Linked DNA regions of Homo sapiens. The protein of the gene in region 1 interacts with the protein of each later gene in a pairwise test. Each region holds a gene or a part of one and is shown on either strand. Other genes may lie near its edges.

Evidence for each region.
Region 2: the proteins of SEPTIN8 (region 1) and SPTBN1 interact in a two-hybrid assay, tested with the Homo sapiens proteins (one study listed by BioGRID).

What each region holds. Positions count from the first base shown.
Region 1 is NC_000005.10:132,774,181-132,781,182, reverse strand, and holds the start of SEPTIN8 (septin-8), read left to right. Parts: upstream 1-3,943; 5' UTR 3,944-4,045; coding exon 4,046-4,075; intron 4,076-7,002. UniProt on the Homo sapiens protein: Filament-forming cytoskeletal GTPase. May play a role in platelet secretion. Seems to participate in the process of SNARE complex formation in synaptic vesicles.
Region 2 is NC_000002.12:54,459,327-54,466,326, reverse strand, and holds part of SPTBN1 (spectrin beta chain, non-erythrocytic 1), read right to left. Parts: intron 6,990-7,000; exon of another isoform or gene 6,919-6,989; intron 1-6,918. UniProt on the Homo sapiens protein: Fodrin, which seems to be involved in secretion, interacts with calmodulin in a calcium-dependent manner and is thus candidate for the calcium-dependent movement of the cytoskeleton at the membrane.

The DNA.
Region 1 (7,002 bases):
GTTAAACATCGAAAATACTTCCTGGAAAAACAGCTTAACGATTAATTTAGTCCATGAAGAGATGAACAAAAATAAAGAACTTGCAAATGGAAAAAAAAGCCTTGGTAAGAAGACTAACGATGACCATTGAATTCATTTTAATTCAGAATATTTATCAACTAACTATGAAGTTATGTTTACAAAACAGAATATGAGTGTTATAAACATGGATAATGTAACAATAATATGTAACTAAACTTAGGAAGCAGGTCAGTCAGAGATGGAAAGAATCATGAGAGCGAATTTTTCAAAGCAATGAACACACTGAACACACATACACACACACACACTCATATGTCACTGAAATGTGCATTTTAAGAAAATAACTCTAACCTCAGTGTTTTTTACAATTTTTGTTTAACCTCAGAGGTATCTTTTAGGAAGTAATATCTCTTGTGGTCAAGAAACATTCTTTGAAGTTCAACTCTTTCTTCAGTTTCAACTTCTTTGTCTTCTTTTAAATTCAAGTAAAATTAAGTACTTTTAATTTAAATAGCATCTGTATTATGGCCCAGATTCCTATAAAGTATCTCTATTATCTTTCCTCCTATCAGTAAATATACATAGAAAGTTTTCTGGAATGATATAAATGTAGTGTTCATGATGGTGATTTCTGAGTGGTGGGATTGGGATAATTTAATATTCTCTGTATTCAAATTATTTAAAATGTACATATATCACTTAAAAACATGAAATTTTTCTTTAAAAGGGGTGGAAGGCTAAGAAATTATCTGTGGCTGATTCTGTTGGTGTATGGCTGATTATTTTCTTGCTTGTCATTTTTTATATTTTAATTTTCTAATAAACAAAAATTTCATAGTATTAGAAAAAAAGATTTTCAGGCATCTCACTGGAACGGATAGTCCAGAAACAGACTTGGCAGAGATGGCTGCAGCCTCCCAACATCTGCTCTCCTCTAACATTTTATGGACTTTTTAGCTGTGCACATGATAGCCAGAATAAAGACCCCATTTTCCAGCTCTGGCCAATAGCATGTAAGCAGAAGTGCCACATGGCAGCTTCTGGAATCCTCTGAGAGTTGGCTCATTTGCACTGTATTACTATCATTGCCTCTTGCTGCCTGGAATGCAGATATCACCATATTGGACCATGAGAGCAAGACCACGTAAGGCCAAGCAACAAGAAGAAAGTGTGCGTAGAGAGTCACATAAGCCCTGGACTACCTACCTGGACAATGTAAGAAAGGAAGACATTTCTATCTTGTTGAAGCAGCTGAACATAATCCTAACTGATGCACAACCTGCACACACATACAGAAATGTCGTCTGTGATACCATTTGCATTGTACATCAGAGGGGAAAGATGAAACAACTGGTTTGGCATACACATACACAAATTGCCTAGATGTGAAGGAGTTAAAAAAAAGTTTTTAAAGAAAATTTATTCTTTTCTCACAAACACAATATCTTTGTGAAGTTAGGGAAGGGTCTTTATTTTTAGAAGCCAAAGTAAAAATAATAAATAAAATAACAAGTACACTTGACAACATCAAAAATTTAAACTTCTACATGACAAAAGAAAGTATAAACAAAAGTAAAAGACAAGCAAGAGGCCTGGAGGGCAGCATTTCCTGAAGCGAAGTCTTGTCATGTTCAAGTTCAGTGTGGTGCTGGGTATGTATGCAGGGTAGAGACAAGGGGCAACAAAGTGTGGGTAGAGCTGTATATTCCCCTTTCTTTTGCACAGAAAATGCATATTAGCTGATCAAAAGCTGAGGACTTCTACAGAACCCTGTCTGTGTATGGAACTCAGCATTCCCCAGTTATTTGACGGTGAGACCAATCTTTTTGTGGTAAAATCTATGAACTAACCTCTAGGTGTATACGAAACACTCAGAAATGCTGCCATAAGAAATAACACTTTGCCATGTGAGAAATGATCGTTATATTCACCTTTTGAGCCCTCATAGATAATTCTCACTCTTTTATAAGTTCTGACCAGCAGCAGCATAAAATGAGAGAAATTTCGGCATTGTGGAATAGGAGGAAATTCTCCTGTTTACTCCTACAGAGCAGAGTGAATATATCCCAAAAGAAGGAAGTCACCTGTACTCTGAGCTTTTCCTTCTCATAGCCACTGGCCAGGACTGTAAGAAGTACATGTTTTGAAATATTTCCGATTAGAGATAAAAGACCATTTTGAAGATAATTTAGGGCTAGTCCCAGAGAGTTGTAATGCAGAACTGCCATACGGATGGCAGTTGGTCGTGATTTCTTGTTAGTTATAGGGAAAGAAAAAGGAAACAGTAGATACAGTCTAGGATGATCAATTCAGTATTGACCACACATTCTCTGGGCTCTGAGATTAAGGCCCTTGTAGTCTAGAGAGGGAGATTTTATTTAATATTATATTTTAAGTACAACTTAAAGCCCTTTACTTATGTTATTTAATCCTGTAACATAGGTGCTATACTTGTTCTCATTTTTAGGACCAGGGAAGGGAGGCATAGTTAAGTAACTTGCCTAGCTAAGGTTAAAAAGCTAGCAGGATTCCACCAGGAAGGTTTGCCATAGATCCAGCTACCCTAACCACTGCTCTGCTCTATTTCTTGTAGATAACTTTAATACAGCATGGGAAACAGCAACATAGAGAGAGGAGCAAAGTGAAAACATTGTCAGGAAGGTCCAGCGGGAAGTCAGTCCACCTTGGGGACAAGCTACAGTTTGCCTGGGAGAGTGAGGAGGGGAAAGCCAAATCAGGGTGACAAGGTCAAACAGCAGAGAGGGGGCTCCTCTTAAGCCAGGTGTGCTAAGTCGAACGTGGTCTTTAGGCACCTCCAGTCAGCACAAGTTTCTGAGTAGGAGAAACAGGTCAGGTTGCTTCTCAGCATACTGGGGTGAGGGGTGTGTGTGGAGGGTGGACCAACCTGGGATGAGGCCAGTGGGGGGTAGGGGGCAAACCTTGCCACATTCCCAGAAAGAGCAGAGAGAAAGGCAGAGGGAAGAGAAAGAAACGGGGTTTCAGAGGATTTGGGAGCTGCTTTTGTATAGATTGTCAGTGAGAAGGATACAGAACCTCCTGAGGCCTCCGACCCTGGCGTAAGTGTTAATTTTCTGAACGTTTTGAGCAGTGACATTAGCGGAGAGAACGTGCACGCACTGGGAGTGGTCATCCTCTTTGCACAATGGTGGAACCATTAAGACGTTGTCCCAAGCCCTTGGGACAGGCAGGGTGATGGACACTTGCAATCTGACGCCTTGACCGTCGAGCTCCGCTTTTCTATTGCAGGAATCCCAGCCTAAACTGCGCATCCTGCTCGTTGGTTGCACAAGGAGCCGAAGGCTGGTCCCTTGCCCGGGAAGGCCGCCTGGCCGGACGCGCGGGTCCCGCCGGGGTTCCCGCCTTAGCTCCGGCCGGAGCATCAGGTGGGGCCCAAGACACCCGCAGACTAGGCTGCCGCGGCCTCTCCCGGATCCGACGGGTCTCCCGCAGCTTGTCCACACTCTGGTTGGTGGTCCCAGCACATTTGCAGGCTCCAGCGGGTGGAGACGGCTTGGTGGGGGAGATCTCTAGGGCGCACGCCGTGCCCCACTTCCCCCTTACGGGAAAGGCTTTCCAGCGCGCGGACCCAGGAGACTCTCACCTAGGCTCGGCCCCAGGCTCCAGGGGACACGCAGAGGCCCGCCGGGCACCAGCCCCGAGCCCCCCGACACTGCCGTCCCGGTCCCCCAACGCGCGGACTACAAGTCCCAGCAGTCCCCGCAGCTGGCACCTCCCGCCTCGCCGCGGAGACCCCCGGCCGTCCAAGCGGCGGGGCTCCGGCTGCGCTCGTGGCCGGGCCGGGCGGGGAGGCCGGTCCCGCGGGCGGGGGCAGGGGCGGCTCCGCGGCTTCTCCCGCCGCCGCCGCCAAGGGGAGTTTCCAGGAAGTGGCCATATTGGATCCATTCAGCCGCAGCCGCCCGGGCGGAGCGCGTCCCGCAGCCGGCTGGTCCCTGTCGCTGCCCCTGCGCTCGTCCCAGCCCACCCGCCCGGTGCGGAGCTCGCCATGGCGGCCACCGACCTGGAGCGCTTCTCGGTGAGGGCCCCGCTGGGCCACGGCGCGCGCGGGAGGCGCGGGGCGCAGGAGGGGCCGCCCTGCAGCTGGCGGGGGGCGCGAAGCGGGCTGTCAGCGCCTCACGGCCGGGCCTCGACACCGGGCCAGCTCGAGGACCCCGGCGCGGGCTCTCGGCCGCGCTATCGGGGGGTCCCGGAGCGTCGGGCGGCCTGCCTTGCCGGGCGGCTGGTCGGGGTCGCTTCCTGGGGCGCAGGCAAGGCTAACCCCTTTCGCGGGAAGGAGCAAAGACCCGCCTGGCTCCGGGCAGGTGCGAAGATAGAGTGGCGCCCGCGGGGCCGCAGGTGAGGGTCCGGGACACTCCGGACCCTATCGCCCAGGGTGTTTCTTTCTGCACACTTGGGGAAGAGTCCTAGCCGCACAGGTGCTGCGGGATAGGTACAGCCGGGGAGGATGGAGGCCCCAGGATCCGAGAGAGTCTCCCACACGAGCCCAGGACAGTTGCAGACTTGAGTCCTGAAGACCCTTGGCCTGCTTTTCCTTCCTCCCCCGCTCCCCTCTGCCCCGCTCCCCACGCCGGAATCCTGGGTGCGACTCCAGGCAGGTCAGGCCTCAGTGGTCGGGTCTGCGGCAGCCATTCGCCAGGAGCTGGAGGGATTCCAGACTCAGCCCAGTGGGCGTTTATTTGGGCTCCAGTCCAGGTCCTCAGAAGGTTGATGTCCCTGGTGGTCCCTGCAGGGGTCTCACTGGGCCTGAGCCTGCCGACAGCCAACTTACTAAAGGCTTTCATAATTCACTCGCGGGAGGGAGGCCTTTGGGGGGTTGTATCTGGACATCCCCTGCTGTCTAAGGCTGGATCTGGGTGTGTCTGGGAGGCTAGGCTGTGACAGTGAAGGAAGCTGTGTCCTCTTGCCAGCATGTAAGGCCCTGGTCGGCTGGAAGGGGGAGGAGGGGGAGAAGGAGGAGGAGGAGGAGGGAGGCCCAGGGCTGTTGGAGGGAAGGGGGAATTCTGAATATGTGAACGATAACGAATTGGTTCTGGGGCTAAATAAGGGAGCCAGGACTTATGTAATTAATGCTATAAATACCGTCATCCCAATTTATATATGTAAATTTTCCATTTAATCTGAAAATACATTTCTTATTCTACTTTGGAAATGTGCATGACTAAAGCAGGAGCTCTTGGTTTCATAATTTCTAGACTCGGGTGTTTTATTCCCATTGGAGAGGGGGTCGTATGTCAGTTAAGTAAGTTTAAATACATGAGGAACAGATTCAGAGGCTGGGCTACTCAGAGATTCACTTCGCCCCGTATTATAAATTGGAATTTATGTACCGGAGGAGGGCAGTGCCTGAATCCTAACAGACCTGCTGATTAGCTGGAGGCCAAGAGACCCGTGAGTGCCTGGGTGTCTCTGCATGTGTGTCTGTGTGCATTTTCTGTGCCCAGCTGACCAGAAAGTTATGTCTGGGTCTTGTCTGTGGCCAGAGGTTTAACAGTTGATGTTGCAGGTGGGAGAGGTATGTAGAGAAACCAGAATCAGACAGCCTGATAGGAATCCTAGACACTCCTTGTTGGCCATGTGACCTTGGGCAGGTTATTTAACCCCTTGGTGCTCTCATGCGTATAATGGGATAGAAATATTTCTTCCCTCATAGGGGTATTGTGAGGATTCAACAAGAGAATCCAGGGGAGGTACTTAGCCCTGTGTCTGGCACATGGTAAGGACACAATAAATAATATATGCTACCTATTGTCCACGTGGATGTGAGGACTGGCCCCCTATGTAAGAAGGGAGCAGAGGATGCATTTGCCCTGTTCATGGCACTCTCTGTAGAGCTTCCATCCCTGCTCGTCCAGAGATGGTCCTCAGAGGGTTAGCTGAGAGGCCATGCTGTGGGCTGGTCAAGCCTTCCCCTGGGGTCCTGTGTTTGCTCTCGGACCATTCCTGTGAGGAGTTTTGGTATTAGCTGCGGGGTGGCCAGGGCACAGAGAGGGGACTGACTCAGGCAAGGGCGTAGAGCCTGAGCGCAGGGCCTTGGTTGCTATGCCAGCTTCAGCTGGAGGGATGGACACCTTCCACACCCTCTGCACTTTGGGCTGTCAGCCTCCTGGAAGGGCTTGGATAGGGTTGGATTTGGGTGGAGACCTTGGGTGGAGTTTGGCCTGAATTTAAGTCTGGACTCCATTCACCCTTCCTGGCTTGTCATCTTGGGAAAATCATTTCTGCCTTTATCTTGCTGTAAAATGGGCAGAGCCACACTGGTTCCTCAGAGAGTTTATGGAGGGTTAATTGCAGTCCGTGGCATGTTTGGAAATATGCTGAGGTGTCTCGCAAGCCCCAGGATGTGATGGAGCCATGACAGGTCTACACTGTCCCTCTGGCCAGCTCAGTGGTCAGTCTAGCCCTGCAGGCCTGAGAATTGTCCTGACCTGGAGCTTAGACGGCATACAGAGTTGTACTTTGAGATGGATGTGTGCTGGGTTCCTGTGTCCTCACATAGCATGGTGTACACACCACAGGCCAACAGCCTTGGCATCCTGACTGGGCTCTGCTCCACCCTAGATCAGTATTGGGGTAAGGGTTGGCATCCCCTGTGTGTGGGTGTGTGGAGCAGCCCTCTGAGGAGGGTGTGTTGCCTCTTGCCTTCCTCGGGCAGCCAGATTCCTGTCCACTCTTGCTGTGCCCCTCCTCCTAACTGGAACCTTGACTCTGGGGCTCAGCCCTTTCTTCCCCGAGGGCCAGCTCCGGTGTTTTCTCCTGCCAGAATCTCACAGGTTCAGACCCCGTGGTGAGCAACCCTTTAGGGCTTGGGGAAAGTGAAGCTGAGGGGGAGAGGAAGAAACGTGCAGCACACAGCCTCACACTGGCGTTCTTCCCAGCCAGTCACTTACCCCCATCTCTGCTTTATCCCCAGCACCATCTGTCACTTCCGTTGTCACCCCTGCA
Region 2 (7,000 bases), on another chromosome or scaffold:
ACTTTGAAAATACATACCTCAAAGGAATAAATTCTGTTGTACTTATATATCATCCTAAATTTCATACTAATTGATCTATTGGGTAAAAATCTATAGTTATGTTCTAATACATATTTTACTGCCTAACTAGTGGCTTCAAATTTGTATATTAAAAATCAGAACTAACAGGGCATTCTCGATTCTAGAGCAGAGATATTAAAATGGTTCTAAAAATCACTCAGATGTTTACTGTCACAGTTGAGAGTTTCTTAAGAATGGACGTATGACTCCTATAAACAAGGGTCAGTTTTAAAGCAATCTTGATAACATCTTATTTTTATATGTCAAAGCACAATTAATCCTGAAAGCTTCTTCAAACAACCACTCAGTTAAAGCTGATGGCAGAAAAAATACAAAATTAATGGAAATTCATTAATTTTTATAAGCTACATTTCACAAAGTACCAACACACTTAGAGACTTGGACCATAAAATAGAAAGTACTATTCCCTCCCAAACATTTCCTCCACTGGCTAAGGACAACTTGACTCATTCATGGGACTCCTTTTCAAAATACTGTCTCTATAAAATTCCCCATTTAAAATGTTTTAAAATATGTGCCTCCCTTCGTGGTAGAGATTACTCAATCAAACACACACCTCTCTCTCCCATGTGTGAGATATATATATATATATATATATATATATATGAGATAAACATGATATGTATGCATCATATATGTATATATACAAAAATATAACATTGCACAGGAATTTCTTTTCATACAAAAAACGAAGAATATTAAAATTAGTTCCTCTCAATCTTAGCCTACAATATTCCCAGATGCTGAGATACCATTCACTGAAAGTAAATCTAAATCTGAAGTGATTTTTATTTTAAAATGTTCACTTGGAATTTTACCTTCATTTCTGACCAATTCCACTGAAACCTGATGGTCTAATGGTTACAAACTAGCTCCAGTAGCAGTGTTTAGGTTTCCACGAGTGAGAACATGCACGTCATGGAATTCCACTGCTCTGCACTCAAGTGTGGAGACTGGAAATACCAAAGAACCCTGGTCCTCTGCTCTTTTCAAGCTGCCTAGGTTAGTGTAGAGAATTAATACATTTGAATACACTAATTTATCTCACACCTATACCCTTAAGATGCTAACTTACACACTGTATCATTGCTCTTAGAAAACTGCAAAGAAGGACAGATATAACAATCGCTGGATTTAAAACTATTTCTTAATAATGATCTACAATTGGACAGATTTACTTTTTTCTTTCCTTTTTAAAAATTAGAATTTTTAAAGTGTTGATTGCTTTTTTGATTATTAAAAAATGGTGCCCAAGGCTGGGCACGGTGGCTCACATTTGTAATCCCAACACTTTGGGAGGCCAAGGCAGGCAGATCACTTGAGTTCAGGAGTTGAAGACCAGCCTGGGCAACACGGTGAAACCTCGTCTCTATAAAAAAATTTAAGGTTTAAAAATTAGCCCTGTGTGGTGGTACACGCCTGCAACTACTTGGGAGGCTGAGGCAGGAGGACTGCTTGAACCCAGGAGGTCAAGGCTGCAGTGAGCCATGTTCGTGCCAATGCACTCCAGCCTGGGCAACAGAATAAGACTCTGTCTCAAACAAAACAAAAGAAAACAAAATAAAACAAAAAAAAGTTCCTCAAACAAACCAAAACAAATGGTCCTCATGGTCATCTATTATATTATTTACTGCATTCTTCTCTACCGTGAAATATTTCAAAACTCAAAAAGAGAAACATTAAGTCATGGGAATTTCCTTTCATACAAGAGAGGAAATCACCCATCAACCTACCATCCAAAGCAAACCATTAACATTTTAATGTATTTCCTTCCAGTCTTTTACTTAATACAGTAAAACCAGGATTATAGTACACTATACAATTTTGCATCCAGATATTTCCACTAACCCCTGTATTACCGGCATCTTCCCATCTCAGTAATATTCTTCCAAACCATTATTTTAAGCACTACATTGAATTCCACCCTACAGTTGCGCCATAATTTATTTGATTATGTTCCATTAAAAAACATTTCCCCTTTTCTCTATTAATGTTGCCAAGAAAATCCTTGTTTAAAAACTTGTCCTTATTTTTAATTGTTTTTGTAGGTTACCAAGCTACATGTGAGATTTCAGTTCAAGAGGTATAAGCATTTAAGGCTTCTGTTACATATATATAACCCAACTGTTTTCCCCTAAGTTTGTATTAATCAAAATATGCTCTCAACAGGTGATGCAGAGCTCCCATCTCACAGCAGCCCAGAGCATAATATCTATCCATTAAGTGGAAAAATTAATTAATTTAGTCTGTATTTCATACACTGGTGAGTTTGAACTTACAGTTATCGACCTCCTTGATTTCTTCTTTTATAAACTATCTGCTCATATCATTTCCTTAGCTACTAAGGCTTTAGCATTTTATTGTTTGTTTAAAAAATACATATATATAAATCAGATTTTCCTTTCCTATTATTTTGACATGATGTATAGGAACAGGTTTAATACAGATGGAACTTAGCATTATTTATCTAAATGATTGTTATTTGCTAGAATATACCTTTTCTAAACAAATCAAACTGTTTATTTGAAAGAAAGCATAATATTAAGTCAAACTAAGCAAAAATTCCACATTTTATAATCATTAAAATTTATTGTGATAAGCGCTGAATTACCTCATTTGGCTTTAATAATCCTATGTGGTAGATACTCTCATTACGACTATTTTACAGATGAAGATGTTGAGGGACACAAAGAAGTCTAGGCAGTTTGCCCAAGGTCACTTAGCGTGTGAGCGAGGTGGGTGGGTTGTGTAAAGAGCCTGAAGCCTGGGGCCCAGGGCCCCTCCATCCAAAGCCTCCCATCAGCCTCTCTAGCCATGACCTCTCTCCAGCTCCACTGAGGATTGTGCTGGAACCTCAAACTCAAACATGTTTAAAGCAAAACTGATACTCTTCCCAATCAAATATCCAATCATGCACTTGACTTGTCTATTTGTCATCATCACCAAACATGCTCATTGTCATTATTCAAATTTGAAATCTTTATCACCTTAGCTTAGCTCGTCACCCACTAGGTCCACCTCCCATCCATCCTGCCATCCATTTACCCTACAAATAGCTTCGCATAGGATTGGGCCTTCACAACCATTTTCCCATCTCTCCTCTCCTTGTTCCCTTGGCCACCACTGTAACTTGCTCCCTTTACTTCTGGACCCCCAGTCACCTCTCTCCTGTCTCCTTGCTTCTAGTTTCTTCCAGTCTCACTGTATTCTGAACACTGCCAAGGTGATGAGTTTCTCAAGTATCTTATAATCACAGAATTTAGAAGTGTACAGGAGCTTAAAAACTGAATGCCAGATTTAATCGAGTGGTAGTTACTGCCTAGAACACCATGTCGAGAATATGACTGAGACTATCTCAGCTCAGTGGAAAAAGAGTACCATTACTGATTTTCGATGTCTGCCAGGAACAGAAGCGAGTGATGGCATGTGCCATGTTTTAACCCCCACTATGATTTCATCTAAGTCTTCCATTTTATAAAATTAGATCTGAGACCGGAGGGTTAAAGGTTTGCCAAAGTCACACATCCAGCCTGTTAAAGGTATTTTACCTTCTGTGTATAGTACATAAAATATATTCCATATACTAGAGTATACAGTCCTTTCATTCAGGAACTAATTCTTATTCAACTTTAAGCCAGTCCACAAAACCATAACAACTTCAAGTCCTGGCAAGATAATGTATCCAATAATTATTCATTAAATAAAAAACAATATTACAAAGTAATCTCAGAGTAGCAGTAAAGGAAGATCATTAATACTATAAATGCTTAATGGTCAAAAGAACTGTGTACAAATAAATGTAATTACATTACTTTCAAGAACCAGAACCTAAACTGATAAGGGTTTCTAGTAAGTGGTCTCTTCAGACTGTATTAATCAATATATAAATGCCATTGGTAATGCAGCCTTTTAAAATACAAAAGTTAGAATAAGCCATTTAATAGCTCTCCTGACATAAAAAGGTTTAGGTAGTTTTTGCAAAGCATACCAAAAGGGATCAGTGGGTCATAGTGCTTAGGCAGTCCCAACAGAAAGGAAACAACTGTTATCAACTAAATACGTACTATGTGCCTGGAACTGTACACTGCTGTATCATAACTAAGAGAAACTAATATTATTTTGATTTTTCCAATGAGGAAACTGTGGTCTTGAGTAACTAACTAGCTCAAGGCCAGTACCTAGTGGTAGCCATAAGGCTAGTATACAACACCATTAGGATTTGGGCCCACAACCTGTTTGACTCCAAAACGAATGCTCTTTCCAAACAAAGAAAAACTTTTCTGAAATAAGAAAATTACCCTCACAAACTTTAAAGGACAAAATACTGATTATGACTCTGCTAAATTACAAATAACCGATCATCAAAAGAAATCACAAATTCGAGTTAAGAAAAAAAACACAAGCTGAGAAGTAATTGTCGCAAGACATGTAATCCACAAAGGATTAGTAGTAATCTACATACAGAACTACAAATTAATAAGATAAATGGGTAAAAGACTGAACAGGTACTTCACAAAACGAAGAACCCAAATGGTTAATAATGTAAACAGACATTCAAACTCAATAATCAGAGAAATTGTAAATAAAAATCACAGTGAGATAATGTTTCACTGGACAAGATTTTCAAGCCTGGTATGTGAAGCACTGGCAAGGCTTTGGAACTGTAACACTTATGGCTAGTGGGAACACGATCAACATAATCGCTTTGTAAAAAACAGTTCTACATTCTCTACTAAGGCTGATGATGCATATGCCCTGTGAGCCAGAAAATTTCATTCCCTAGAGACAGCAAATGGGTGTGTGTGCCTCCACATATGTACCAAGAGCCGTGTACAAAAACCACTCACAGCAACCCTTTCACAATAGCAAAAAAACCTGGAATCAATCCAAATCTCCATCTAGAGTACAATGAATAAATAAATCACGTTAGAATACTATACAGCAGGTGAAACTGAATGAAATACAGCCATGAAATGGATAAACCTTGGGAATAGAATCTTAATCTAAATATGTGAGTCAGAAGAATACATAAAGTATAATTTTGTTGATATAAAGTTCAAAATCATACACAATCAAGATTTTTTAAAAAGGATAAACCATAGAGAAGGGAATGATATGCACAAAATCAAGGATATGGGTTGTTTCAGATGGGATGATGGAGGTGGGCTCTGAATGTATAAGGCTCTTCCTGAACTAGCCGGTGGCTGCCTGAGTGTCCCTTGGTTTATGATTTTTATTTTTTTGAGACAGAGTCTCGCTCTTGTCACCCAGGTTGGAATGCAGTGGCGCGATCTCGGCTCACTGCAACCTCTGCCTCCCCAGTTCAACTGATTCTGTTGCCTCAGCCTCCCGAGTAGCTGGGAATTACAGATGCCTGCCACCATGCCCAGATAATTTTTGTATTTTTAGTAGAGATGGGGTTTCACCATGTTGGCCAGGCTGGTCTTGAACTCCTGACCTCAAGTGATCCGCCCCCACTCGGCATCCCAAAGTGCTGGGATTACAGGCGTGAGCCACTGCACCCAGCTGGTTTACGATTCTTTAACATATATTTTAGGAACATTATTTTGTACCTACCAATTAGTTGATTCAAAAAAGAACTCTAAGAAAAGACTGGACGAGAGGGCAGGACATTGACTATATCAGATGACAGACATCAAGATGCCAGAGCAGAGGGAGCAGAGAGGACCCTTTGCTCAGGGGTTAGCTTCCGAGGCTCCAGCTCTGATGTCTCAAAACCAATGCCTTTTTCTTCCAGAGGGGAAAAAGACTGTTTTTCAACTTTAGAGGTGTTTTACAAAACAACCTAAAACACTGATTAATCTAAATAAACCATGGTATATAGGACTCTTCCACCAAGAATTAAAGAACAGCTTTATAAAATAATTTTGTATTAAACAAATAATTTACAGTGAGAGCCTCACTTTTGTCACCACCATCAAGGAAAAAAATGTGCTGATACTTCAGCAAAAGAAAGGAAAATTCAAGAAGGAAACTTTTGATATTGAGGTCCCTTTGCTGAAGGAACAGAATAGAGTTTCTTCATTTAATGTGCATACAACTCACTTAAAGGTCTTGTTAAAATGTTGATTCCGATTGGCTGAGTTCAGAGTGGGGCCTAAGAATCTGCATTTGCAACAAGCTTCCAGGCGATTCTAATGTTGAAGGTCCGTGAACCTCACTATGATAGCAAAGGACATTATGAAAATGCCTTCTCCAGAGATGTTTAAAAATAGAAACACAGGTATATCTAATTGGTGTAATTTCCTTTAACCACTGAGTAGAAAAAAATAGATGATGTTATTCCCACACAATAAAAATTTAAATATAATTACAAGTGCTACCGGAAAAATCAGAGTACTAAACTAGGTCTTTTGCAAAGAAAAGATGCCCTGAGAAAAAGCAAAGACTGAAAATTTACAAGAAAAACCCATGAGATGCTTTACTCACTTCCACAGACCTACAAAGTTCACTCTTCTAACAGGGGTAGTTAGCCCCTTCCTTCTGGAAGAATGGTTTGCATTTCCAATAATGTAGTGAAAGAAACTACGGCTGCCATTAAATAAAGCCCAATTATAATGAAGATACTAGTTACGATGCAACATAATTAAAGGAGCATCATGTCATTGCACGTAAAAAAAATTAGGCTTTAAAATGTTCTATAAGAATATGCTATTAAAAAGAAAAGCTTAAAATTATTTCGACAAAATCCACACTGAATGATTTCCACTAATCATGTCTATGTTAGCAGTAGTAAAATCCTTCCACGTCAAAATAGTACTTCCACATGTAAAGTCATACATTCAAACATCAAGACAAAGCAACCACTCTACAAACCCTTCCAGGAAACTCTGCCAATGCCAAGCCTCTGCTCAGGATGTGTCACAAGTAGAGGGAGGTCTTCTCATTTGCTCTGCAA